Linked DNA regions of Homo sapiens. The protein of the gene in region 3 interacts with the protein of the main gene of each other region in a pairwise test. Each region holds a gene or a part of one and is shown on either strand. Other genes may lie near its edges.

Region 1 (7,028 bases), on a different chromosome or scaffold from region 3:
CCAGGTTCACGCCATTCTCCTGCCTCAGCCTCCCAAGTAGCTGGGAGTACAGATGCCCGCCACCATGCCCGGCTAACTTTTTTGTATTTTTTAGTAGAGACGGAGTTTCACCGTGTTAACCAGGATCGTCTCGATCTCCTGACCTCGTGATCCGCCCCCATCGGTCCTCCAACGGATTTCTTTTTTTAACCTATTTTTAAAATCCAGATTGAGATCCAACTTCATTATGATATCTTCCCTGAATGTGCCTGGCAATGATCTTGTTCTATTCGCTATTCCTATCCCATATAAGGTCTCGTTTGCATAACTGGGTACTCTATTATGTAATTATCTTTCATTGACCATAATGGTTCTTACTGTAATGTTCTCCTTTTAGCTAAAGCTTAAGCTCTTTGAGAGTAAAAAATATGTCTTATATTTTATTCCCTGAGTAATCTAGCACAAATTACTGTTTGAATAATTGTTGATTGCCTGACCAACCTGAGAGTGACAGAAACCAGAGCTTTGACCCAGGCACAGTGGCCCACGCCTGTAATCCCAGCACTTTGGGAGGCTGAGGCAGTTGGATCACAAGGTCAGGAATTTGAGACCAGCCTGGCCAAAATGGTGAAACCCCGTCTCTACTAAAAATACAAAAATTAGCCGGGCATGGTAGTGTGTACCTGTAATCCCCGCTACCGGGGAGGCTGAGGCAGGAGAATCACTTGAACTTGGGAGGTAGAGGATGCAGTGAGCCAAGATTGCGCCATTGCACTCCAGCCTGGGTGACAGAGCAAGACTCCATCTCAAAAAAAAAAAGAAAGAAGGAAAGAAAAAGAAAGAAAGAAAGAAAAAGAGAGAGAGAGAGAGGAGAGAGGAGAGGGAGAGAGAGAGAGAGAGAGGAGAGAGGGGAGAGAGGAGAGAGGGGAGGGAGGGGAGGGAGGGAGGGAGGGAGGGAGAGAGGGGGAGAGAGGGGGAGAGAGAGAGAGAGAGAGAGAGAGAGAGAGAGGAAGAAAGAAAGGAACCAGAGCTTTGTGGAAAGCAAAACTCCCAGCCCCCTTGGTGTGCACACCCCTGTATAATACCTCCTTCCCTTGAGCATGTGTGGGATAGCCACTCCCTGGTTAGGTTATGTGGCAAAGGTGATGGTCTAGTCATTCCCATGATAACATAACACTAAGTCTCAGTCTTAGCAGACTGGAGAGATTCTCCTGCTGGCTTTGAAAGTGTGAGAGCTAGTGTGTGAAGAGGCCTGTGAGACGGCCCCATGGCAAGGAACTGCAGGGGCCTCAAGGAGTTGAGAGCAGCCCACTGCTGACAGCCAACAAGAAAGTGGGACCTCAGTCGTATAGCTGCAACTGAAAGGTGGCCAAGGGAAGAGGACGCCAAGCTCCAGAAAGGAACACAGCCTGGCCAACACCTAGACTGCAGGCTTGTGAAACCCTGAACAGAGAACCTAGTTAAGCCATGCCTGGATTCTGTCAACAGAAACTATGAGATAATAAATGGATGCTGTTTTGGCTGCTAAGTCTGTGGCAATTTATTATGTACCACAGAAAACTAACAAACTTTTAAAAGCATTAACTTTTAGCTGTAGAAAACTGAATGTTCTCTAGTTTTGCTAACTTAGAAATGTCAAAGTACAGATTATGATACCAATTCCACCAGAAAGACTGAACATTTATTATATTAGAGTATATTAAGTATACCAGGCCAGGCGCAGTGGCTCACGCCTGTAATCTTGGCACTTTGGGAGGCCAAGATGGGTGGATCACCTGATGTCAGGAGTTTGAGACCAGCCTGGCTAACATGGTGAAAGCCCATCTCTACTAAAAACACACAAATTAGCCAGGCGTGGTGGTGCGTGCCTGTAATCCCAGCTACTTGGGAGGCTGAGACAGGAGAATCGCTTGAACTCAGGAGATGGAGGTTGCAGTGAGCTGAGATTGCGCCATTGTACTCCACCCTGGGCAACAAGAGCAAAACTCCATCTCCCAAAAAAAAAAAAAAAAAAAAAAAAGGAGTATATTGAGTATAACAGAAAATGGACAAAGGATAAACAAGAGAGAAGACAAGAAAAAGAAATACAAATGGCCAATAAAGCACTTGGAAAAAATGTACAACTTAATCATAATTAAATAAATGCACACCAAAATACCAAGATGTTACTTTTCATCTCTCACACTGACAAAAAGCATTAGATTTGATAATACTAAACACTGATAAAGATGAGGAAGCCCGGAAGCAGTGGCTCACGCCTGTAATCCCAGCACTTTGGGAGGCCAAGGCGAGTGGATCACCTAAGGTCAGGAGTTTGAGGACAGCCTAGCCAACATGGCGAAACCCTGTCTCTACTAAAAATACAAAAATTAGCCAGGCGTGGTGGCATGTGCCTGTAATCCCAGCTACTCTGGAGGCTGGGATAGGAGACCTTGCTTGAACCCGGGAGGCAGAGATTGCAGTGAGCCAAGATCACGCCACTGCACTCCAGCCTGGGGAACAAGAGTGAAACTCCATCTCAAAAAATAATAATAATAATAATAATAATATACGCATTGAAAAAAACTGGAGAAGTCTACCCAAAATTATTAATGATTATCTCTGGGTGGTGGTATTAGGATGACTGTGTTTTTTATACATTCCTATACTGCCTAGACTTTCTACAATAACACTTTAAAAATTACTCTGCTTGCCATGCAGCATTATCTTTGATTCTGTGTAAATTCATTAATCTTGGGGAGAAGAGACTAAGTTTTCATATCATGGTATCATATTTTGCTCATTTACCTCCCTCCATATGCATGAAAGACAACAGACTCCTTTCCTGTACTAATACAGCCAGTGATTGTCTCCAACATTCCAGAGTTGACCATTTTATACATAAGTAAACGTGTCTTAGGATCAACTGCTTTTTCCTGCAAGAGATAAAGCACTGTAAGTGAAAATGACTGCTAATCACAAAATATTTTCTGAGCCACTTCTAATAACTTTTTTTTTTTGAGACGGAGTCTTGCTCTTGTCACCCAGGCTAGAGTACAATGGCACCATCTCTGATCACTGCAACCTCCACCTCCCAGGTTCAAGTGATTCTCCTGCCTCAGCCTCCCGAGTAGCTGGGATTACAGGCGCCCGCCACCACACCTGGCTAATTTTTGTATTTTTACTAGAGATGGGGTTTCACTATGTTGGCCAGGCTGGTCTCGAACTCCTGACCTCATGATCCGCCCGCCTTGGCCTCCCAAAGTGCTGGGATTATAGGTGTGAGCCACCACGCCTGGCCTAATATCTTTTTTTTTTTTAGAGACAGAGAGAGAGACAGGGTCTCACTCTGTTGTCCAGGATGGAATGCAGTGACATGATTATGGCTCACTACAGCTTCAAATTCCTGGGTTCAAGTGATCCTCCCACCTCAGCCTCCTGAGCAGCTGGGACTAAAGGTGCACACCAACATGCCCGGCTAATTTTTTAAAACTTTTGCTGAGACAGGGTCTCCCAGGGTCTCCCTATGTTGCCCAGGCTGGTCTTGAACTCCTGGGCTCAAGCGATCCTTCTACCTTGGCTTCCCAAGGTGCTGGGAGCCACCTCACCTGGCTTATTTACATTTTTTTTTTTTTTTTTTTTTTTAAGGCAGGGTCTCAATCTGTCACCCAGGCTGCAGTACAGTGGCACAATCATGGTTCACTGCAGCCTCAACTTCTTGGGCTCAACCAATCCTCCCACCTCAGCCCCCCGGGTAGCTGGGACCACAGGTGTGTGCCATGATGCCCAGCTAATTTTTTTTGTGAGCTGGGGATCATTATGTTGCCTGGGCTGTTCTTGCACTCCTAGGCTCAAGTAATCCTCCTGTCTCCATCTGCTATCCCAAAGTAGTGGGATTACAGGCGGGCACCACAGTGGCTGGATTTATTTACATCTTTGATTTAAAAAGCCAATCTCATGAAAAAATATCAAACATGAAGTTTTTTTTTCTTTACCCAAAGTTTTCTAATATGAATCTTTCTAGTAAAAAAGAAAAAAAAAAATCTATAAATCCTTACTGCTGTAGAATGCTCCTTTTTCTCATGTAGGCGGGCACTTCGACGTTCTTCTGAGTAGGCATGTTGTTTTAAAGCATTGAAAACATGGTTTGATAGTTTTAAATCCATTCCAATTCCATCTCCTACCTGAAACTCAGGTGCAAACTGCCAAAAGGAAGAATTAGCATCTAAATATTTTAAAATAGGGACAGTTAAAAACAAAAACAAAAACAACCAAATGAGATTAGTCTTTCTTACTCAATAGATGATCACACTAGAAAACCAGAAATCATAGCTACTACAGAGAAAAAAATTAAATAACTCACAGAAAGAGGAGCAATACTATTTAAGAAATTACAACCCAAAGGAAGGCATTTATTCCAGGCATAGAAAACATTTCATCACATCCAAAACTAAGGTCTTTCGGCATGTGCATTGTACCTTGCTTTTAGCCAAAGGACACAATATTGAACTGTGAAGGCTACACCAAATCTTACCAAAGAAATACAATTTTGTAATTATTTGTGGAGAGTGGGTTGTTATAGCAGACTATGTTCACACCATGACAATTATGTTCTAGAACTGTGCAATTCAGTTAGGTAGCCACTAGCCACACTTGGATATTTAAGTTAATTAAAATTAAATTAAAAATTCAGTTCCTCTATTATACCACCCAAATTTCAAGTGCTCAACAGCAAATGTGGCTACCATATTGAACAGCACACATACAGAACATTTCCATTACCACAGAAAGTTCTATTGGACAGAACTCTTCTAGAATTAGATCTGGAATATTTCTAGAAATGATATAATTGAATATGTTTACTTAACAAGCATTTGTGCTTTAAAATCTAAATGTTTAATATATTATATTAACCACAATATTTATGAAGGATTTAGAATGCTTTTTTTTTGTTTGTTTTTTTGAGGCAGAGTTTCACTCTTGTTGCCCAGGCTGGAGTGAAGTGGCACGATCTCGGCTCACTACAACCTCTGCCTCCCAGGTTCAAGCAATTCTCCTGCCTCAGCCTCCCGAGTAACTGGGATTACAGGCATGCGCCACCATGCCTGGCTAATTTTGTATTTTTAGTAGAGATGGGGTTTTTCCATGTTGGTCAGGCTGGTCTTGAACTCCTGACCTCAGGTGATCTGCCCACCTCGGCATCCCAAAATACTGGGATTACAGGCATGAGCCTCCATGCCCGGCCTAGAATGCTATTTTTTAAAGTTACACTTTACTTCTGATTTTACACAGGTAGTTCAGGCACAAGATAATAAATTCAAAATGCACAAAAGAGTATATGGTGAAAAGTATTTCTCCCTCCCATTTGTATTCCCCAATCGCCACCGTTATCTGTTTTTTGGGTAGGGATGCTATTTTATAGAGATATGATGAAGAATAAATGTTAATTTCATAATAACTATTTATTAATTTTAGAATCAATGTGAGTCAAAATAGTTTTTCAACACTGTTATGGAATTTTATTCTGAGGTACTTTATATTTTCATTAATGTCTCAGTTTCCATGATATTGCCATATTGTTATCTAAAAACATCTTTAGAAAGAAAGACATTTTTAGAAATCTAAGGTATTATATTTAGAATCCTGTTTTTGAAAGGTATTCAAACAAAACTCTAAATTCAGAGATAGATACTTTCTGTAACTTACATTTTCCATTCTTGCTGTGTTCTTTCTCCCACATACTACTTCATCATGTTTGGTGGTGATATCTTTTCCTTTTCCAATAAAGCCCTTTTTAGGAGTGGGAACCGGTTTTGCTAAAGGCAATTGAAATAAGCCAGGTATATAAAAATAGCAAAGACTACATTGCTGCATTCAACGTTGTCTGAAAAGACATTTGAATCTAAGAGTAAATTACCAAATGAGATTCAAAGAAAAATATAAAACTAAAAGAGTTCATTGAAAAGATTAGTCTTCCTATACCTCTATTCTGCTGCCCCCAGAAAGTAAAAACTTTGGTACCTGGTCTGTAGGGATCATCACGAGTATCCTGCCAGTCAACCTCATCTTCAGAGCTATCGCTGTCTTCATAAGGATGCACTTTTCGATAATTTTCAAAGGAAATGGAAACTTAAGAAGCAAAAATAGTTGAAGATTTACTTAGGAGCACATTATGAGTGTTTTCTACCACTCAATGAAGTTGTCACAATAAGGTTATAATACCTTTGCTATCTCCATTGAATTTTTTTTCTTCACGCCTAAGCTGTGCATCATATTCTCTGTCATATTCCATCTGTAGCATCTGAGCCAGCATAAGGTCACTGGAAGTATCAATGTTTTCTCCAGTAATAAATGGTCCTTCAGCAACACTATTCAAAATAAGGCAATATAAACTAATGTAATGTGCTTAAGTAAACAGAGGTTGCCAATTATGAGAGTAGGAGGTGCCTTTTCCATGTTAAAATTGAACAATGGGAAAGAACTCTATCAAACCATTTACCTTCTCCTGCACAGCTAGCCTTAAGACCAATGGCATGCACCTGTGGGAGTACCAACTAGGATTAAGAGAACTGGGAGAGAAAGCTAAACTGAGGCCTAGAATTCATTTGTTCTGAATGAAAGTATGAGGCCAGGTGCAGTGGCTCATGCCTGTAATCCCAGCACTTTGGGAGGCTGAGGCTGGCGGATCATCTGAGGTCAGGAGTTCGAGACCAACCTGACCAACATGGAGAAACCCCATCTCTACTAAAAATACAAAATTAGCCGGACGTGGCAGCACATGCCTGTAATCCCAGCTACTCGAGAGGCTGAGGCAGGAGAATCACTTGAACCCGGGAGACGGAGGTTGTGCCGAGCCGAGATTGTGCCATTGCACTCTAGCCTGGGAAACAAGAGCGAAATTCCATCTCCAAAAAAAAAAAAAAAAGAAAGTCTGGATGTTTCATTCATCCATAATGAAAGAATAGATACATATTCATGAAAAGATAAACTACAAACACTTGATCAAAACTGTACCTCATCTAGTTCAACTGCAGCATTAACGCGATATAACTAAAACCCACAGAAACAGT
Region 2 (6,876 bases), on a different chromosome or scaffold from region 3:
CTGCATCCAGCCAGGGCCAGGGCTAAGCCACCTGCTTCAGAGTAGCCTAGGTCTGTAGGGAGCAAGAAGAACAATAAGATTGGTTCCATTTGCTGAGCAGTGACTAAGAGCCAGGCCCAGTTCTAAGTGTTTTTGAGCATGTCTCATTTAATCTTCCCAACAGGCCGGGTGTGGTAGCTCATGCCTATAATCCCAGAACTTTGGGAGGCCAAGGCGGGTGGATCACCTGAGGTTGGGAGTTCGAGACTAGCCTGATCAACATGGAGAAACCCCATTTCTACTAAAAATACAAAATTAGCTGGGCGTGGTGGCACATGCCTGTAATTCCAGCTACTCGGGAGGCTGAGGCAGGAGAATTGCTTGAACCTGGGAGGCGGAGGTTGTGGTGAGCCGAGATTGCGCCATTGCACTCCAGCCTGGGCAAAAAGAGCAAAACTCCGTCTCAAAAAAAAAAACCCAAACTAAAACAAAACAAAACTTCCCAACAGCCCTATGGAGGAAAGATGAGCCCAGTGAGGAAACTGAGGCACAGTTAAACTATTTTGCCCAAGGTCACACAGCCAGCAGGTGTCCAGGTCTGCCTGGCTCCAAAGCTGGTTCCCTTTTGGCCATATCATGCTGCTTTCTCGAGGGGCTGGAGGGAAGTGGAGGGTGACAGAGGTTGCCCTAGAAAGGACATGGGTTTGTGGCTCTCAGAGCCTACCAGGGACTGGAACACACAATGAAGTTGTGAGTTGGCCTCACTCCAAGCCCAGCCTCCAGCAGCACTACCCTCCAAGAAAGTGGCCTGCTCCCCATCATGATAATCTGTCTTTTACAGAGCCAGAAGAGGGTTTAGGGACCAGTGCTATCCCTGGTTTCAGTGGCCTGAAAGGATGGAAAAGGAAAGGAAGTCAAGTGAGGCCTCCAGGACTCTGCTTGATCAACACCACACAACCACTGGAGGTAGGCCTTAATTTGCCTTATAATGCAGATGAAGAAAAAGAGGCGCAGAGAGGTCTGTAAAAGGTCATGCAGCTGGTCAGTGGCAGGCTGAAATTTGAATCCAGATATGTTCAAGGCTTGTTTTGGTTCAAATCAGTGGGCCTGGAGCAAAGCCCAGGGACATGGCCAGCCTCCCACACTGTAGATCCCAGCTCCAGACCGGCCCACATAAGCCCCAAGGTTAGGAACGGTCACATGGTCATTCTTCACGATTCCTTCTGTGACCGGTACAATGTCTATTACAGAGCAGGTAACTGTTACTGTTTTACTCTGAATGCAAGACCCAGATAAGGGGCAGAGTGGCTCTGAAGGGACTCAAGAGGCTGCAGCCCCAGGCCTGGCTGGGACCAGCAGCCTCCAGGAAACAAAGAAAAGCAGGGATCAGACCCTGGGAGAGAGGATGACCCTCTCTCTTCACCCGTGAGCCTCAGGAGGCAATAGCATCTCTCAGTCAAAGTGTAAGGAGCTTTAGCTTGCCCAAGGCTGGGATCCTGCTTTGAGACCATGCTGCCATTCCCGTCCCGGCCCTGTATGACTCACCATGGTGTGGAGGCTCTGAAACAGGCTGAGTTCACACCGTTGCACTGAGCTGCTGGAGGATGGACAATCCTGTGCTACCTGGGTCTGAGTACAGTGGAGGCAGCAGCAGCACCTGCAGGAGTGGGTAACGATACAAGCTGCGGAAGGAACTCGCAGTCGACTGGCACAATCACGCCTTCAGCACCCTAGTAATTAGGGAGCTGCCCCAGACTTCGGTCCAAGTCCAAACTCTAGTACATGGGCTACGGATGGAGAAGAGTGTGGGGCTGACCAAGGTTCATGCCTGCACTTCACTGCCAGAAGACAGATCAATCCATGTCAAGCACAGGTCTGCCTTTATGTCCAGGAACAGCACCCACTTCATCACTAAAGGACAGTGATCCTCAGAATAACTATCTTTTACACGGGCATCACATGCAGCGAAAAAGTTAACAAAGCTCGTCACACGCTTGCCCTCACTGGCCTTGGCACCAAAAGGGAAGGGAATGGGGGGAGCTAGCCAGGTTTGTGACCCATTTTACTTCTGGGAAACAGACTCAGAGAGCTCTAGGGACTTGTCCAAGGTAATACAGGTAACAGCCAGAATCTAAACCAATGTCTAGTTTTTCTACAGAGTGTGTTTTTACTACTGATAATTCAGTGCCTCCAAAGTCAGGCAGAGTCTCTGCTATGGGAAAGGCAAGATGTAAACCACGATGACTTTCTAGCTTTTCCTCAGTTCAGCCTGGTTCAGCAGCGTGTTGGCCTCTGTGTGGGTGCACAATAGGAAGAATCAACATAGCTCTGCCTCAGCCTACTTGGGGTTGTGGGGAGGGTCTTAGGTAAACCAATTCCTCCCTAAGCCTCAGCTTCCTCATCTGTAAAATGGGGGTTGGCTCCTCTCTGGCATTCTGCGAGTGTGCCAAGCCACGTGGTATTCCTCTTGTTCCCGGGGAGCCTGTTTGATGTGGGGTACCCTGGAGGCTGCAGGGCTGACGGCTCTCCTGGCTCATTAAGGTTCCCTACGGAGAAATACTGGTTTTGTGTTTGAGGTTCGAATTTGTAGAGCAATAGGGGCACTAATAACGTTGGGCAAGCAGACCGGTGGGCCCTTTGAAGTCTGAAGAATCAACGCGCAAAAGGGAGGAGGTGAGCAGGTGGTCGTTCAAACGTCAGGCGAGGGCACCAGCTGGATCTGGAGGAACTGAGACAGTGAAAGGAAAGCAGGCAAGGTTCTAGTCTGGGATATGCACGAATCGCGGTCTCCCTTCCCTCTCTATGCCTCCGCAGTCCTTCCCGTTCCCAAAGGAGGAACAGCCCGAGGGCTCCTGGAGCAACGGAAGGAGGACTGGATGCGGGGAAGGGCAAAGGGCGCGGAACGGGGTGGGGAGTCTGCGGGCGAGCTCGGAGGACACTGGCGCACCTCCCCCGCCGGCTCACGGCCGCATCCGCCACATCCGAAGGCGCCGCGACTTCCCGGAGACCCCGAAGCGTGCGCTCTCATCCGGGTCCTGCGGGCGCTGGCGGAAAGAGGCGAGGCGGTGCCTCCGGGGGCGGGGCCTCCTTCGGTTGGCGGCCTCGGGCTTCGGGAGTCCTCCAAGAGGCCAGGTGAGGCCGTCCCGTGATGCCCCGCGCCCCGGCCGCTCTGGCCTGCAACGTGTCTCTGGGGCGGAGGCAGCGGCAGTGGAGTTCGCTGCGCGCTGTTGGGGGCCACCTGTCTTTTCGCTTGTGTCCCTCTTTCTAGTGTCGCGCTCGAGTCCCGACGGGCCGCTCCAAGCCTCGACATGTCGTACAACTACGTGGTAACGGCCCAGAAGCCCACCGCCGTGAACGGCTGCGTGACCGGTGAGGCTGCCGGGGCCGGAGACCCCGGCGAGTGAGGGAGTTGGGGGGAGCCGCGGCCTAGGGAGGCCCGCCGCCCCGGGGGCGGCCGGGCAGGAGTGGGCCCGGCGAATGGAAGGCGCTGGCGGCCGAGGAACCTCCCCCAGCACCGCGACCTCGAAAGAGTCGTCCCTGTACGCGCTTTTTGGGGGTTGGAAGCCGCTCTCGAGGGTCCCCTTTCGTCCTGGGGAGGTCATTCGGCCTCGAGAACAGGGCGGGCCCAGTGAGACAGAGGAGTGTGAGTTGGTTGTGCGGTGTCGTTTGGGCCCGGAGATTGGCTTTCTGTGGCCAGGAAAAGGGGAGGTGGTAATGACGACTTTGGGGTCAAGATTTTCCTGTGGGGAAGTCTGGGGGGCCCAGGAGGTGGAGGGATGTGAGGAATGCCCGCATTATCCCACAGAGGGAGAGGAGCCCTCTTCAGGCTAACCCCTTTGCCTGGGGCTGTTGTTTACATGAGGGCCCTGCTGGAGAAGAGGGTTTGGTTTGCCTGGCCCAGTGCTGGGTTTGCCTTGTTGACGATGCGCTTGGATTGTTAAGGACACCGATGTTCAGAACCCGGGAAGAGTCATCTTAACCCACATTCTCAGCTGAATATGCAGACCCCAAGCTTGCATGTTTATATACACCCTAATCATGATTCCAAAACAAAACTGTTGTTCAGAGTTGGAGGTAGCTGAGTGTGGATGGAGGTATTGGTAGACTGCCAGGAGGGCAGGGGGTGTGGACAAAACAGTGTTTTCATATAAAGCTCTGGGACTTCTTCATTTGACTTGGTCTGTCAGATAAAAGTTTTGTGAGACTTTAGATGAAGACTGGAAGAAGTGAACACTTTCTCCGGCATTCTCAATTAGAGCCTGCCACTGTAACTGTAATAGAGTAAAATTGGAGGGGCAAGAGGCATGAGAAGGGATTACGCAGTCATTGTCATTTGGAGGACACACGGCTCTTAGGTCCAGTCCAGTTTTCTTAGTCTGATTAGGGAAGTAGCTTTGTTGAATGCATGAACTGAGACTCTTTGAGGTGCCGGATTTGGCAAGAAGGGGAGTAGCTGGAGGGAGTTGGAGAAGTATGTGAAGTAAATGAGAATTCTGGAGGTATTTAGACATAAGTGATAGGATTATTTTGAAGGGATGGGAGGCCCTTCCCCTGAGTTCAAAAGTTAGAGGGTCTGTTCTTTCAGGACACTTTACTTCGGCCGAAGACTTAAACCTGTTGATTGCCAAAAACACGAGATTAGAGATCTATGTGGTCACCGCCGAGGGGCTTCGGCCCGTCAAAGAGGTGGGCATGTATGGGAAGATTGCGGTCATGGAGCTTTTCAGGCCCAAGGTAAGTGTTGCAGTTGGGACAAGCAGTGGAGGGGGAACTGTTGGTCGTAGGTTGTTTTATGTTATTTTTGTTTGTTTATTTATTTTCTTTGAGACGGGGGTCTCACAGTGTTGCCCAGGATGTCTTGAACTCCTGAGCTCAAGCAATCCCTCCACTTTAGCCTCTGGAGTAGAGTAGCTGGGGTATTGTAGGCATGCCACCGTGCTTGGGCTGTGTTAGGTTGTTTTGCGAATTCTTGGGATGGGTGGAATATGCTTTAGGAGAAAAACTCTTCTCTTTTTTCTCTCTTTGGATAGCAAATTTCAGTATGTACTCTTGACCAAGCTTTCTAGAAGTAAAAGGAGAGATTCATTAGGGAAACATTTATGAAGTTGACTTCTTTAGAAGGGAGAAATTAAAGCAGTTTGTTTCAGAGGATAGGCTACAGAGTGGGGCAGTCCTGGCTTCATTTCTTGTTAATTCTGACTTTAGGTGCCACTTAAGGCACCTTTCAGATCAAATCCCCTGGGTTGTTGTGACGATGAAATGATTCAGTAACATAGGGCCTATCATATAGCAAGCATTTACAGTTATGTTAACAATTACCAGGCCGGGCATGGTGGCTCACGCCTGTAACCCCAGCACTTTGGGAGGCCGAGGTGGGTGGATCACGTGAGGTCAGGAGTTCGAGACCAGCCTGGCCAACATGGTGAAACCCCATCTCTACTAAAAATACAAAAGTTAGCCGGGTGTGGTGGCACGTGCCTGTAATCCCAGCTACTTGGCAGGCTGAGGCACAAGAATTGCTTGAACTCAGGAGGCGGAGGTTGCAGTGAGTGGAGATGGCGCCCATTGCCCGGTGACAGAGCGAGACTCCATCTCCAAAAAAAAAAACACCAAACAAAAAAAACAATTACCATCAGTATTTTCATTATTTTAGCGCAAATGTTTTCATCCAAATCACCACCACATTGCTTTATGTTGTCTTAACTGAATCTGGCAAGAAAGCAGTGGGTTCAAAATTTTAATTATAACCCTTTGAACAAAACAGCAATTTTTTGGAGTCTGTGTTAAATAAGTAGGACTTTGTTGATCCATTTTAGCTTCCGTTGTTATTCCCACATTTTTTTTCCTCTTTCTTCAAATACTTGGGGAGGAGTGGAGGAGGCATTACATTCATCTTTCAGAATTTGAATGGGATGATTGAGATTAGCTTGAGATTGAAATAGATGAAGACTTTGTTTGTAGAACAGAGAGATGGAGAATCATGAAAGTGAGAACTAGATGTTTACCAGCTTCAGTTCTGGCTTTTTGTACATGCCCTTAGGGTGTATGTGTACCTAGTGTGGGTTACAAGCTCACCATGTATTTTCTCTTTAGGGAGAGAAGAATTTGGAAAATTCTTAAAGAATTTGGTGTGCTTAAAGACTGGACAGGTTGTTCCTGTTTTAAAAAGAACCTCTTTTGATAGCATAATATTGGTTTCCAGGGGGAGAGCAAGGACCTGCTGTTTATCTTGACAGCGAAGTACAATGCCTGCATCCTGGAGTATAAACAGAGTGGCGAGAGCATTGACATCATTACGCGAGCCCATGGCAATGTCCAGGTGAGGTGGCTGCTTTAGGCCAATGAAAGTTTTCTAAGTAGGGCTGTCATGATTCATGGAAAAAATTAAAGTGCTGGGGGCAGCTCTCTATTCGATCAGAGAAATAAGGAGAAGACACTATGGGTTTGAGCTTTTTGGAGAAAGGACTCCTGTAGTTCACTCAAGACCCAAGGGACAGGGTAATAATTCATTGAGATTCAGTGTTTCATGAAAAAGGCATGCACTGACATTGGGGCTCCAACTATTTGGCCTATCAAATAGATCCATTAGTTTTAATACCTCTCCTAAAATTTTTCTGCACAAGTGGTGCCCAGCGTCCTCTGTTGCTCTGTGGATGTTGAGGTTCTTCCCTAATCCCGATTTTGTTTCTCAGGACCGCATTGGCCGCCCCTCAGAGACCGGCATTATTGGCATCATTGACCCTGAGTGCCGGATGATTGGCCTGCGTCTCTATGATGGCCTTTTCAAGGTTATTCCACTAGATCGCGATAATAAAGAACTCAAGGCCTTCAACATCCGCCTGGAGGAGCTGCATGTCATTGATGTCAAGTTCCTATATGGTTGCCAAGCACCTACTA
Region 3 (7,028 bases):
GATGAGAACACAGTCTGGCTGACACCTCAATTTCAATTTTGTGAGACCCTGAGCAAAGAACCCTGCCTTTCTGACCAACAGGACATGTGTTATAATTAATGATTGTTGATTTAAGCCACTACCTTTGTGGCAATCTGTTATAGAGCAATAGAAAATTAATAAAAAGTAAAACTAGAGAATGTTATGACCATTTCATCGATAAGGAGACTGGTTCAGAAAGATGAACTGATTTGCCTAATTTTATTCTGAAAATTAGTGACAGAACTGAGACTGGTACTTTGGATTCTCATTTGTACTTCAGCATTCTTTCCACAGGACTATAATGCTCCACACTAATGAGAATTATTGGTAGATTTTCCTTACCTCTGCCCAACAATAAGATGGATAATGCATAATATATTGTGTTCTTAAAAAGAGTTCAATGCAGAGTAAAACAATCATTTTATTGATTCTTATGTCAGTTCTGTAGCATAATGAATACATTAATCATAATCATATTAAATGTTTAACTGATAGTATTTTAAAAGAATCTTCAATCAAGTGCTAATCCTCATCACTAAATAAACAGCATTCTGAATAGTCAAGATTGGGAAATGTGATAGGTAATTCTACCCACTTTTTGTATTGTTTCTTTGTTGAATTATTTTTGAAAACCACTACAAAATTCCTTATTTTGAGACAAGGCAAATCTAAGCCTTTGTGCACCATCATTGTTCCCCAAGCCTGGAAAACAAAAGAGAGAGCAAGAGGAAAATTAAATGTACATGCAATTAAACATTCCTGTTGGCTAAAGTAAAATCTGGCCCACAGCAATTTACTCACCTGGCCACATTTGCAGATGATTTCACCATTTATTTGATAGTCGGCACACTTCTTTTGCAGTGCTTTGTTTTCTCTTACAATGTAAAGTTCCCTATAAGTATCAAAGGGAAAGAATCATCATGGAGAACTGACAAAATACCAGTGTGTAGTTCATGGGTTATTGGACCTGGAGCTCATCCGCATGCCTGCGGTATTCTACACGGCATTCCTTCCTTCCCTCCTGCTTCCCAGGCTTGTTATTGCAACTAAGGCAATGCTTCTCTTCTACACATACCTCTCAAGGGGCATGTTGCCTTTCATAACTTCTTTCAAGTCTGTTGGTTATATTAACTTGACTTTAGTTGTTCAAAAATTTGAGAACAAATGATGAGCATACAAAAATACGTGCCTTGGATCAAAATGGCTTTGGTTCTTACACTTCTCTTTTCCTGCCCCAGTGCAGTTTATTTAAAACATAGACATTTAAAATAGGAATATAATTGAGAGGCTAAAGGAGAGGAAGTTGTAAAATAAATGAATCTCATTTGCACTATTTTGAAAGAACATTTACAATGCAACCTGCTTCACCCCTTGTGGAAAAATGTAAAAATGGGTCTTTCTGGACTCACTTGAATTCTGGGGTCATATTGACGTGATGCATTTTCTCAATTACATGGATATCTTCCCCAGAACAGGCTAGCACACTGCAGTTTTTGCAAAGGAAAGTTATTAGTGATGGGTTATTCTTGTAATGCTTGGCAATATTTCTCTTGGTTTTCATTTTCTTTTCCATTATACTTTGCATCTGTAATTCCAAAATCTGGACAGAGAAAGGAATAGTTAGTGGTTTCAGGTTTGTTTTCTTTTTTCAGTTTCATAGAAGTAAGTCTCCTGAAATTTGGAGGTCTTAGTTGTGAAAATATACCCTTAGCTTATGGTCTAGGAAATAAAAATAATGAGGTAATGACCCCCCAAAGAATTTGGTATATAATCATCTCCTGTAACCATGAAAATGTGCAGTCTTCAGGTATTCAAAAAGTAGCCCATTCCATTTCAGAAAAGTTCTATTGTGAGAAAGTCCTTAGCAATATTCAACAAAAATTCTCTGTCTAGCCTACCCATTTGTTATTTATTTATTTATTTATTTATTGAGATGGAGTCTTGCTCTGCTGCCCAGGCTGGAGTGTGTTGGTACTATCTCGGGTCACTGCAACCTCCATCTCCTGGGTTCAAGGGATTCTTCTGCCTTAGACTCCCAAGTAGCTGGGATTCCAGGCACCTGCCACCATGCTCAGCTAATTTTCATATTTTTAGTAGAGATGGAGTTTTGCCATGTTGCCCAGGCTGATCTCAAATTCTTGATCTCAGTGATCCACCTGCCTCAGCCTCTCAAAGTGCTGGGATTGCAGGTGTGAGCCACTGCGCCAGCCTACCCATTTGTTTTAATTCTGTTCCATAAAATAGGTCTAAACTTCCTTCCACATGGAATCTCTTTACTAAACACTGTTATTACATTACCAAGTCTTCTCTAATCTATGCTAAGCACCCAAATGCCTTTAATCTTTTTTCATGCTTTATAATTTTCAGACCCTTCACCATCTTAATCAGTCTACTCTTTACACATTTGTAGCAGAAACCACTAGTTTTTCATTCAGTGTCCATTTTTCCTAACAGAACCATAATTTTATTCTGGGTGGAAATATGCTAGCTAAATGACTACATTTCCAAACCAGCAGTCAATGACATGTAAAAAGCTGTTGAGTGGAATTTTCAGAAAATCTTCTTAAAAATTAGATAGCTGGCATGTGTACCTTTCGCCCTTTCCATTCTCCTCTTACTTCCTGCCTAGAATGAGGATGTGGCAGCTGAAATTCTAAAAGCCATCTTCGACCATGAGAATGAAAGCCCAATGCTATAACAGCATAAAAAGGAGAGAAAAGGCCTGGATTCCTCATAACTTCATGGAGCCAATACTGCCTAGATTCCTTCTGTGAGAGAATATGCCCATCAACCTCTTTATTCTATGCTCTGTGACTAGCAGCAGCACTTATTTTATAATGGAAATAATCTAGTTTATGTAACATATGAAAGTTGACATAGGGACTGAACAGTGTTTATACCAACACAACTTCACGGTAGAAAAATCTGGTTCTTGAATAATTTACCGCCAAACTGACCTCTCATAGATGACATATTTATATTAAATTATGGAAGAATTAATTGTTTTCTTTAAGACCGAGGGAGAAATTTTCAGTAAAAGTAAGTCATCAGTGCAGTTGAACAAAGCCCATCTCTTTGGCTTCTAACTCTACATTTTAGATCTCCCTTCAAGGCAGCCATATATAGCATAGAAAAGAGAATAAAACCTTGCAAGCAAGCCTGGAGGCTATATAATAGATTAATCAGACAAGTACCAAGATTAATTTCCTATGTAAATTATAGCAAAATAATACACTGAAATATTTTTCCCTAAAAGTTTTAATAGGTTACTTTTATAAGACATTTACAGTTCAATGAGCTGATAAGGTAATTATAGGATCACATACATGTGGGAATTAAGAAATGTGTATGAATGAGTCAGAAAAAAAATAAAGCCAAGGTAAGTGTATGGATTTGTAATCAGGACATCAGAAGCTAAAAGACTAACTCTAAAATAGTAAAGGAATTTGAAGTAACTAGAGGGGTAAACAAACAAAAAAAAGAACTCATAATAAATATACAGGAGGCACAGCTACAATCAGCCTAAGTCCAAATAAAGTGTAATAATGTAGCAAAAAAATTGAATCAATGCTAGAGAAAAACATTTATGATGATCAACTTGCTCCTAGAAGTCTGATTTAATTTTAAGAAGCTCTGTTATGTTTAAACTGTGTTTATGACATGGAAGAAAGATTTCATCTTATCTGTCAATTCTCATCATTCATTAGTGGTTGTCTGAAGATTGTGTTGAGAAAGATGCTCAAATTAGAAGAAAGTAAACATCTTCCCAGTAGCAATGTTTTCTACAGGCTTTGAACAGATTACTGGTGGCATGTAGCCCTCCTTCCCCATTGCCACTCCTACTCTAAGTTCATCTACCTGAAGTAGTTTTAGGAGGGCAGGTTTCTTGGCCAAAGGAGACCTAAAAATATAGTCCATTCTGGGGCACCCAAAGGGACAGAGTCTTATTCTAAAGAATGTCTGGAAGAATTTGACCCTTAAACTCCAGAGATTGTCCTAGTGTTGACCCCCAAAAAACTACTCTTAAAACATCAGTCTTTGTAAACATCTACTTGATTAATTCTCTTAGGACATTAACTGGGAGGCAGTAACTTTCCAGTGGCATAATTTGGTGACAAAAGTTTGATTTGATACTCTAAAATATTTGCTTTGCCTTGTATTTAAAGGGGTTTTAAAATAAAGTTTTGTGCAGAAACCTGGTCAGGAAACCTTGGAGTTGGTAATAGCAATGCACACCAATTTGAAAGCATCCCTTTAGTGAAACTCTATTTAAGGTAGAGCCAATTCCAATGTTAAGAAACTAACATTCACACCCATATGCAAGGGTGTGAATTTTCTTCTAAATGGATTGTTTGCTATTATAGTAGTTACAGTTTTTAATTCAGTGGTATGGGGGATTTCCTGAAATACTATAGAAATACATTCTTTCTTCACTGCATTCCTTTGCACAACTCAAATAACTGTGTGTTAGTAAATTGAGATGTAGCTAGATGACATATTCTGTATTTTCTTATCATTCAGATGCAGCTTCCCTGTCACTCCTTCTAAGAGACCTTCCTCAACCACCCAGTTGAAAGTATCCATCTAGTCTATGCAGCCATAAAAAAGGATGAGTTCATGTCCTTTGTAGGGACATGGATGAAACTGAAAACCATCATTCTGAGCAAACTATCACAAGGACAGAAAACCAAACCCCGCATGTTCTCACTCATAGGTGGAAATTGAACAATGAGAACACTTGGACACAGGGCTGGGAACATTACACACCAGGGCCTGTCGTGGGGTGGGGGGAGGGGAGAGGGATAGCATTAAGAGAAATACCTAATGTAAATGACAAGTAAATGGGTACAGCACACCAACATGGCACATGTATACATATGTAACAGACCTGCACGTTGTGCACATGTACGCTAGAACTTAAAGTATAATAAGAAAAAAAAGAATTTCAAAAACTACTAAAAACAAGAAAGTATCCATCTAGTCAGTTGTTTCATATCATCCTATTCTAATTCTCTTCACTTATCTTGATATATTATATTTCTTGTCTTTTAATGTTTGTTTACTGTTTCTGTCCTCCAAACTTCACCAGGCACACACTAGAAATATAAACTTCGTGCAGCAGGAGTCTTATGTGTTTTGTTTCCTCTGTTGGCTGTTCCTATAAGGTTACCTGGCACACAGTAGGCGTTTCATCTACATTTCTGAAATTAAAAAACTGTGCCTTTACAAACAAATTGGATCAAACCAAAATTACCATGTTGGATTGAATCAGTGAGTTGCAGCAGTCTTTCTGGAACAAGGCAGGCTAAATTTATATTATCCAAATTTATGGTTGGTTTTACTGGAATGAGGAATGGCTCCCTGATAATTTCCTGCCCACCATGGATCTTGATTCTCTGCATGTGAATCTGGATTAAGCACAGTTCACTAAACAGAAACTTATAATTCAGCACAATTTTTGTCTGGAGAATGAGTCACAGAGATATCAATGGCAACCACATGCCGCCATTTTTAAATGAAAATCAAATTCAGAGGTGACCAACAATACCTTATGAGCATACTCCTCTGGTTTCATATTTTGAACACAATGTATAGCTTTATACATCATCTTCTCTCGGAAATCATTAACTGTCTCATGTTCGATAACTCCTGAACCACTGTGAGCAACCAGGACGTAGGTGCTCTCATCAGCTCTGGCTCGACCACGGGCCTGAAAACACAAATAAATCAAGTAAATGAAAGGGTACGTTGTGATACAAATCCTCCTGGTTTTTTCTGGGAATGATATTCTTGCTCAGAATGAAATGATATTGGGTTGTTCAGCATGCCAGTCTTCAAATGGGTAAAGTTAGTAAAGTTAGTTATTAATCCATTACTTGTAAGTCAGCTCTTTGAAACTTATAATATGCTTTAATACAGAAAAAGTGTTCTAGAGTGATGATGGTTAGGCCTCAATGACATAATATCATCCTGTCCAGGCTTTTTGCTCTCAGAACTTCTCTCTCAAACTATGAGAACCACGATCAATGACTTGGACTGAGGAGTCGTCTTTCTTGGTAGGAAGCTGGGAGGAATGAATGGAGAGAAGGGTCATCTCTGACCTTGACACTAGGGCTGGTGAGAAGGCAGGTCAGTTTCTGGCATCCTACATTACATTCTTAGCACATTTTCCCATGGGAACATATTTAACATGGTGATAACTTTCTACAAGCCTCTTTATGAAAGTGATATTCAGGTATATTTTGATTAATAGAAACTTCTGTGGCCTGGCCCAGGAGCCTATCAACTATAAAAGTATCCTCAAGGAAAAATGTATTCTAAGTTTGATTACTAAGCTTATCACTGACTTACAAATAGACTCCTGAAATAAAATTATTTGCTAATTTGATGGCAGTCTGGTTATCTTAGTCTTCTATGACTTGCCTTTTATTCAAGGATGCAATTTAAGTTATTTAAAAATCCCTTTAGTTAATTTTATAGGAAGAATAGTGTATCTATTAATCAGCATAACACCTATGCCTACTCAACAGGTTACAATAATGCCATTAACATAGGTGGGTAAGAGATAAAGTGAAATCTGAATGAAAACAGAACATTTCACTCTTTTATTTATTTTTACATTTATAAGTCTGCCCCCAACCAACATTTTATCATGAAAACTTCTAAACACACAGAAAATTGGAAAGGATAAGGGAAGAAAATGCAGAAACAGCAGGGCTCCCTCAGGTTTGGGCATGTTACTTCATCAGACATTTGTGGGACAGTGTACTTTAGATTCCTGGTCCAGCTGGGGGCTCACAGACATCCTAGGAAAGAGGAGGCTGCTTTTGACTCTTACAAATGGGGCTAGTGTCATGGTCCTGGAAAGCCTTAGGGTACAGAAATAGCTAAAGAGGAGTTGTTGTTTAAACATACAACAGGTATCTGGTTATTATATGAATTGACAGCAATATGAAAGGCAACAGTGCACAGCATTTTAAAAATGCTCTTTTAACAGGAAAAAGGCT
Region 4 (6,883 bases), on a different chromosome or scaffold from region 3:
GTCTATGCCACATCCAATTTATATTCTAATGGGGTGGGACAAATAACAGATCAGTAAATTAATACCCAAATAAGAGTTCCAGATAGCAATAAAGGCTCTAAAGAAAGTAAAGCAGGTAATGAGACAGAGCCCCTGGAGACAGGCATGCTACTTGAACTAGGGGGTCAAAGAAGCCTTTCTGAACTAGCGTGCAGAACACAGCTGAGCTGTTCTCAGGCTCTGAGAAGATTGGTGTTTTAGGCAGAGAGCATGGTAAATGCAAAAGTCCTAAAACAAGAATGAGCTTGGCATGTTTGAAGAATAGAAAGCAGGTCAGTGTGGTCTAGGTCAAGAAAGCTAGGGATGGCTGGCTGCGTGACTCACGCCTATAATCCCAGCACTTTGGGAGGCCTAGGCGGGTGGATCACCTGAGCTCAGGAGGTTGAGACCAGCCTCGCCAACATGGTGAAACCCTTTCTCTACTAAAAATACAAAAATTAGCATGGTGGTGGGCGCCTGTAATCCCAGCTACTCGGGAGGCTGAGGCAGGAGAATCGCTTGAACCCAGGAGGCAGAGGTTGCAGTGAGCTGAAATCATCCCATTGCACTCCAGCCTGGGTGACAAGATCAAAACTCCATCATAGGAAAAAAAAAAAAAAAAGCAAGCAAGCTAGGGAAAGGGGCAGAGATTGTCAAGGTCAAGGAGGTGGCAGGGGCCACTCATGTAGAGTGCTGTAGGAAAGGACTCTGGGTTTTAGTTGGAGTGAAACAGGGAACCACTGGAAGGTTCCGGCAGGGAAAGAAGAGGATCTGATTTACATTAAAGACTTCTCTGGTGGTTGTGAGGACTTTGGAGGGGCCAGGATGAAAACTGGGAGACCAGTAAGGAGGCCACAGCCCAGGAGACAGGATGACTATGGTCAGGATGGGAACCACAGAGATGGCAGGAGGCAGCCAGATTCCTGGTGTTTTGAGGGTGTAGGAGATAAGGGAGAGAAAAGAAGCATGACTCCTTGGGCACTGGGTGGATGGAAGGTGCCCTTTTACCAGGCCAGAGAAGCCAGGGGAGGAGCAGTGGCTCAGAAGGGACTCCAGAACTCAGTTCGGAACAAGTGAAGTTTGAGATGCTATTGGATTCCAAGTGGGTTGTCAGGGAGGGAAGGAGGCAGGAGAGGACCAAGTGGGCATCAGGCAGGCATGAGACCTCTCTCAGGAGGCAGTGCTGTAGAGCAGACAGCACCTAAAAGCTGTTGGGCCACCAGACCTTCCTCACAGGGGAAGCAGTCCTGTCACTGGCCTCAGAGCCTCACATGCATGAGTTGCTTTGCCAGCCAGCAGGCCCTGCTACATTCCTCGTGGGGCAAGTACTAATGACAGGTCAGGAGAATCAGGAAGGTGAGGCGGGGGTCCTCTGAGCCTTCAAGAAATTAGCAAAGAACAACTCTATGGGAGTTAATAGATCCCTTTCTCGGCCGGGCGCGGTGGCTCACGCCTGGAATCCCAGCACTTTGGGAGGCCGAGGCAGGCAGATCACTTGAGGTCAGGAGTTTGAGACCAGCCTGGCCAACATGGTGAAACCCCGTCTCTACTAAAAATGCAAAAATTAGCCAGGCATGGTGGCACACACCTGTAGTCCCAGCTACTCAGGAGGCTGAGGCAGGAGAATCTCTAGACCCAGGAGGCAGAGGTTGCAGTGAGCCAAGATTGGACCACTGCGCTCCAGCCTGGGCAAGAGAGTGAGACTCCATTTCAAAAAAAAAAAGACCCCTTTCTCCTTCCTTTCTCATGGCATCAGCCAGGTACCAGAAGGCAGTCAGATGAGGCACTCTTCTGCATTCCAGCTTCAGCCACAGATGGAGGGGAAGGGATGATGTGGCCCAAACAAAAGGAAAGGAAGCCCACATTTGTTCACATTTATGGAGGGCCCATTGTAGACAGGCACATCCTAAGGTTCTTTCAGTTAATCCTTCCCCAATCCCGTGACAGGGAAAGTGTTGCCAAGGTGCACAGCTGGCCAGAGGCTAGCACAGGATTTGAACCCAAAACCTGCTGCCTCACTGCAACTGGTCATACACCTTGCAGGGCACAGAGACCCCTGCAGCGAGACCCACACAGCCACCTGCCTTCAAGCCCAAAGAGGACCCAAGGTCACTTGGCGGGAGGGAGGCTGAGGGTGCACTTAGGTGGAAGCAACATTTAGTCCAGACATTAACCCTGCTTTCACATGGCTGCCACAGGTCCCAGGTCGCTGGCTGTCCTCCTAGATATTTTTGAGGCTTCACGGCTTCCATACAGAGAATCCCTTTTTCGTGTTTTTGGTTTGTTTCATGTTTTCTTGGCACTTCCTTCCCAACTGAGAAGGAAGTAGGTGACAGAGTGTTCCCAATACAGCAAAGTTTCCGACCTGACTGTCCAGAGGCTCTGAGTGCATCCCGGAAATAAACACCCACCCTTCCCAAAGGGACAGGCCTCACAGCCTTGGATCGGATTCCTGGGCGCGACCCAGGTCCGCGGAGGGCGGGGAGGCCGTTTTGAGCTGGTGTCGCCGCCGAGAACTGTCCAGACCCAGCGGAGGGCGGCAGCACTCGACCTCTAGGCGCACCCGGTCGAGGCTCGGCCCCACCTTAGCGTCACCCTGGGCCCGCGGGCGGCAGGAGGAGGTCAGCGGCCGCTGCCCGTCCCCTTCTGGCCCTACCTTTCCCCCAGCCTGAGCAGACGCCCAGCGCCACCTACCCCCTTTTCCCCGGATGCTGGATGCGGCGCCTGGAGCCCTCAGTGTTCCCGAAACTCTTGCGACAGGGCCCGCTCTTCCGGATCCCCGCGCGTCCTGTCCCCTCCTGGGCCCCCCGCGCACCCCAGACCCAGGGCGTCCCGGCGGACTCCGTCCTGCCGCTGCAGCCACCTTCCCTAAAGGCGTCCGTGCGTGCTGAGCCGAAAGGACCCAACGCCCGGGAAGCGATCTTACCTCGGGTACCCCCGGCCCTGAGACCTGGCGACCGCCGCCCGGGGCCCAGGACCCTTCCCGCAGCGAGGAGGCGGGGCGGGCAGAGCGCGCGGCCATTGGCCATGTGGAGGGGCGGGGCTACTCGGCCGCGCGTGGTTGGCTGGCGACGCAGGCGGCTGCGCAGCGGGGACGGTCACTGGGCCTTGGTTTGCGGGTCGGGAAGCGCTAGACTGGGCTCGGAGAACCGACCTGATTTTTTGCTGGGGGCGCGCAGTCTCGAGCAACTTCCAGGGGAAGTCCGGTGTCCGGCCAGAAACCAGGCAGGTGGCCGGCCTCGGAGTCATCGGGGGGCTGAGAATTCCATCCCCACGCTTCCCAAGTGAAGCAGCCCCTCCTCCCCCTGGGAACTTTGAGGGGTGAGGGTCTTCGTGTCGTTCTCTCCGGCACCCCCATGGCCTGGCATACAGTTAGTGCCCAATAAACGTTGGGTGCCGCTGAAGTCACAGGGGCAAGGATGCCTATCCTGGAGACGTGCACGCTGGGCCTGTGGGAGTGGGAGCGGGCGGGGGACTGCTGGGTAGGTAGGCGCAAGGCAGGGACGCCAAGGTTGGCTGGCGGGCAGGCTGGGTATGGGTTGGGTGCTGCGTGGGAGAGGCCTCTTACGCCCAAGGGCCTGGGACAGGTACCTCCCGCAGTTCCTGCCATCTGCCTCGCCCTTCCCCTTCTGGGGCAGAGGCCAGCACTTACTGAGCACCTACGATCTTCCAGGCACAGGGTCTTCTATTCTTTTTTTTTTTTTTTTTTTTTGAGACAGAGTCATGCTCTGTCGCCCAGGCTGGAGTACAATGGCGCGATCTCGGCTCACTGCAACCTCCACCTCCTGGGTTCAAGCAATTCTCCTGCCTCAGCCTCCCAAGTAGCTGAGATTACAGGCACATGCCACTGCGCCCGGCTAATTTTTGTATTTTTAGTAGAGACGGAGTTTCACCATGTTGGCCAGGCTGGTCTCAAACTCCTGACCTCAGGTGATCCTCCCACCTCGGCCTCCCAAAGTGCTGGGATTACAGGCGTGAGCCACTACGCCCAGCCTCAAGTGAGGTTTTATTACTGTACTTTATATCCCTGTGAATATTTCACAACCTTCAGCATTTACAAAGTATGCTTAATCACACCTGAACTGTAATAAAACCAGCTCTGCCTAGTTTAGCCAAGAGGGCATAAATGTTGATTAGTTCAAGAATCAATCCTGCCTGCTCCCCACCGGAGCAGCTCTAGCAGCTTCATATCTAATTCTTTCAGGAAGAACATTGAAAGTGTAGGAGCGGGCTTCCAAGTGCAGCTATCACTCCTGTCTTTGCTGGACCTCAAAGAGCATTCAAACAATCCCACTGCCTGACTAGGTGGTTCCCTGCCACCTATCAACAGCTTTTATAAAGATTTAGACAAAGAAGAACACAACAACATGCTTATGGTATTCCTATCAAAAGCTCATGATCTGAAACTAATCATAGGGAAACAGTAAGCAAACCCAAAACGAGAGACATTTGACAGCTGTCCTATCCAATACAATGGCTACTAGCCACATGTAGCTATTTTAATTAAAATTAAATAATACTTAGAAGCCAGTTCCTGAGACCCACGAGCCACATTTCTCTTTTTTTTTTTTTTTTTTTTTTTTGAAACAGAATCTCACTCTTTCACCCAGGCTGGAGTGCAGTGGCCCAATCTCGGCTCACTGCAACCTCCGCCTCCCGGGTTCAAGTGATTCTCCTGCCTCAGCCTCACGAGTAGCTGGGACTACAGGCGCATGTCACCACGCCCGGCCAATTTTTGTATTTTTAGTAGAGACGAGGTTTCACCATATGGGCCAGGCAGGTCTCAAACTCCTGACCTCAAGTGATCCACCCACCTTGGCCTCCCAAAGTGCTGGGATTACAGGCGTGAGCCACTGCACCTGGCCCATGAGCCACATTTCAAATGCTATTTTCATGTAGCTAATGGCTTCATACTCGGTGACACAGAGCATTTCTATTTTTTTTGTTTGTTTTGTTTTGAGACAGAGTTTCACTCTTGTTGTTGAGGTTGGAGTACAATGGCGTGATCTCGGCTCACCACAACCTCTGCCTCCCAGGTTCAAGCGATTCTCCTGCCTCAGCCTCCCGAGTAGCTGGGATTATAGGCATGCACCACCATGCCCAGCTAATTTTGCATTTTTAGTAGACACGGGGTTTCTCCACCTTGGCCAGGTTGGTCTCAAACTCCCGACCTCAGGTGATCTGCCTGCCTCAGCCTCCCAAAGTTCTGGGATTACAGGTGTGAGCCACAGCGTCAGGCCCAAACAGAGCATTTCTATCATCACTGAAAGTTCTATTGGATAGCACTGCTCTGCAGAATAACTCTTCAAAAATTTCAAGGTCAGGAAAAACAAGGAGACTGAGAGACTGCTCCAGAGAAAAGGACACCAAAGTGACATGACAACTGAATGCAATATGGGAACCTGGGTTGGATCCTGAAACAGAAAAAGGACTTCAGGTGAAATCCAAATAAGGCTTTTGGATCAGTTAACAATAATCTAGCTGGGCATGGTGGCTCACGCCTCTAATTCCAGCACTTTGGGACGCCGAGGTGGGTGGATCACCTGAGGTCAGGAGTTTGAAACCAGCCTGGACAACATGGTGAAACCCTGTCTCTACTAAAAATACAAAAATCAGCCAGGCATGGTGGTGGGCACCTGCAATCCCAGCTACTCAGGAGGCTGAGGTAGGAGAATCGCTTGAACCCGGGAGGCAGAGGCGGCAGTGAGCCGAGATCGCACCATTGCACTCCAGCTTGGGCAACAACAGTGAAACTCTGTCTCAAATTAACAACAACAACAACAATCTGTCAGTGTTAGGATCATTGTACTGGGTTATGTAAGATGTAAACATTTGCATTATTTTTGCAACTATGTTGTAAATCTGAAATTATTTCAAAAATATAAAGTAAAATAAATCATCTTTTGACCCTATCTGGCTATTTATATTATCTTTTATTTCTTATTGCATCCCACCCTATTTCATGGGTGTAATTCATTGATCACTGTCCATTTATTAGGAGAAGAGCAAGTCCAGAGAGTGATCTATGCTCTAGGCTGCCCCCAGTGAGGGCCTTGGAGCTGCCCCCTGCCCAGTAAAGTTCAGCACAGACAGGCCCATCTCCAGGCCTCCGAGGGAGGCTGTGACCCACCCATGATGACTCAGCACCCACCAGCTCACGTCACCCCCTGGAGAGCAGAGGTCAGGCGCAAAGACAGTGCCAGAGGGCTCCAAACTCGGTTATGTTCTCCGGTCTGAGCCCTTGAGGGAACTATGACTAAAAAACATAATCCCCTCCTTTATGACTTCATTTTGAATAGTATTTTAAACAGTTATTCTTTATGTTTTATTTATTTATTTTTAAAATAAAACAGACACAGTCTTGCTACATTGCTCTGGTTGGTCTTGAACTCCTGGGCTCAAGCAATCCTTCCATCTAAGCCTCCGAAGTAGCTAGGACCACAGGCACACTCCACTGCACTTAAACAGATATTCTTTATACTATTTTAATTTTTTCATTCTTTCAACTTAATTTACCAAAAATATATACTGTTTACAGCTAATGTGGGGAAAACAGAAATATTTGATGATGAAAACCAAAATCCATATTCATAATGCCACCATCTACAAAAATTAGCCAGTCATGGTGGCACACATCTGTAATCCCAGCTACTCAGGAGACTAAGGCAGGAGAATTGCCTGAACCCAGGAAACGGAGGTTACAGTGAGCCAAGATCATGCCACTGCACTCCAGCCTGGGCGACAGAGTGACTCCATCTCAAAAAAAATACTACTAATAATAATAATGCCACCATCCAGGGGTGACTGCTGGTGACGCTCCAGTGTCTTTTCTAGTATTTTTTTTTTTTCCTACAATACAGAGTCT

The links.
Region 1: the proteins of IFIH1 (region 3) and RIOK3 interact in binary tests that used the Homo sapiens proteins (3 or more experiments, as listed by UniProt).
Region 2: the proteins of IFIH1 (region 3) and TKFC interact in binary tests that used the Homo sapiens proteins (3 or more experiments, as listed by UniProt).
Region 4: the proteins of IFIH1 (region 3) and MAVS interact in binary tests that used the Homo sapiens proteins (3 or more experiments, as listed by UniProt).

Annotation. Positions count from the first base shown.
Region 1 is NC_000018.10:23,463,265-23,470,292, reverse strand, and holds part of RIOK3 (serine/threonine-protein kinase RIO3), read right to left. Parts: intron 6,327-7,028; coding exon 6,181-6,326; intron 6,088-6,180; coding exon 5,980-6,087; intron 5,775-5,979; coding exon 5,665-5,774; intron 4,161-5,664; coding exon 4,017-4,160; intron 2,895-4,016; coding exon 2,767-2,894; intron 1-2,766.
Region 2 is NC_000011.10:61,329,380-61,336,255, reverse strand, and holds the start of TKFC (triokinase/FMN cyclase), read right to left. Parts: upstream 3,029-6,876; 5' UTR 2,927-3,028; exon of another isoform or gene 1,637-2,926; 5' UTR 1,528-1,636; coding exon 1,525-1,527; intron 417-1,524; exon of another isoform or gene 319-416; intron 53-318; exon of another isoform or gene 7-52; coding exon of another isoform or gene 1-6. Other genes in the region: DDB1 (DNA damage-binding protein 1), read left to right, coding at 3,288-3,348, 4,565-4,713, 6,182-6,298, 6,672-6,876.
Region 3 is NC_000002.12:162,266,657-162,273,684, forward strand, and holds the end of IFIH1 (interferon-induced helicase C domain-containing protein 1), read right to left. Parts: intron 5,732-7,028; coding exon 5,570-5,731; intron 1,622-5,569; coding exon 1,431-1,621; intron 914-1,430; coding exon 823-913; intron 724-822; coding exon 544-723; 3' UTR 418-543; downstream 1-417.
Region 4 is NC_000020.11:3,842,965-3,849,847, reverse strand, and holds the start of MAVS (mitochondrial antiviral-signaling protein), read right to left. Parts: upstream 3,015-6,883; 5' UTR 2,945-3,014; intron 1-2,944.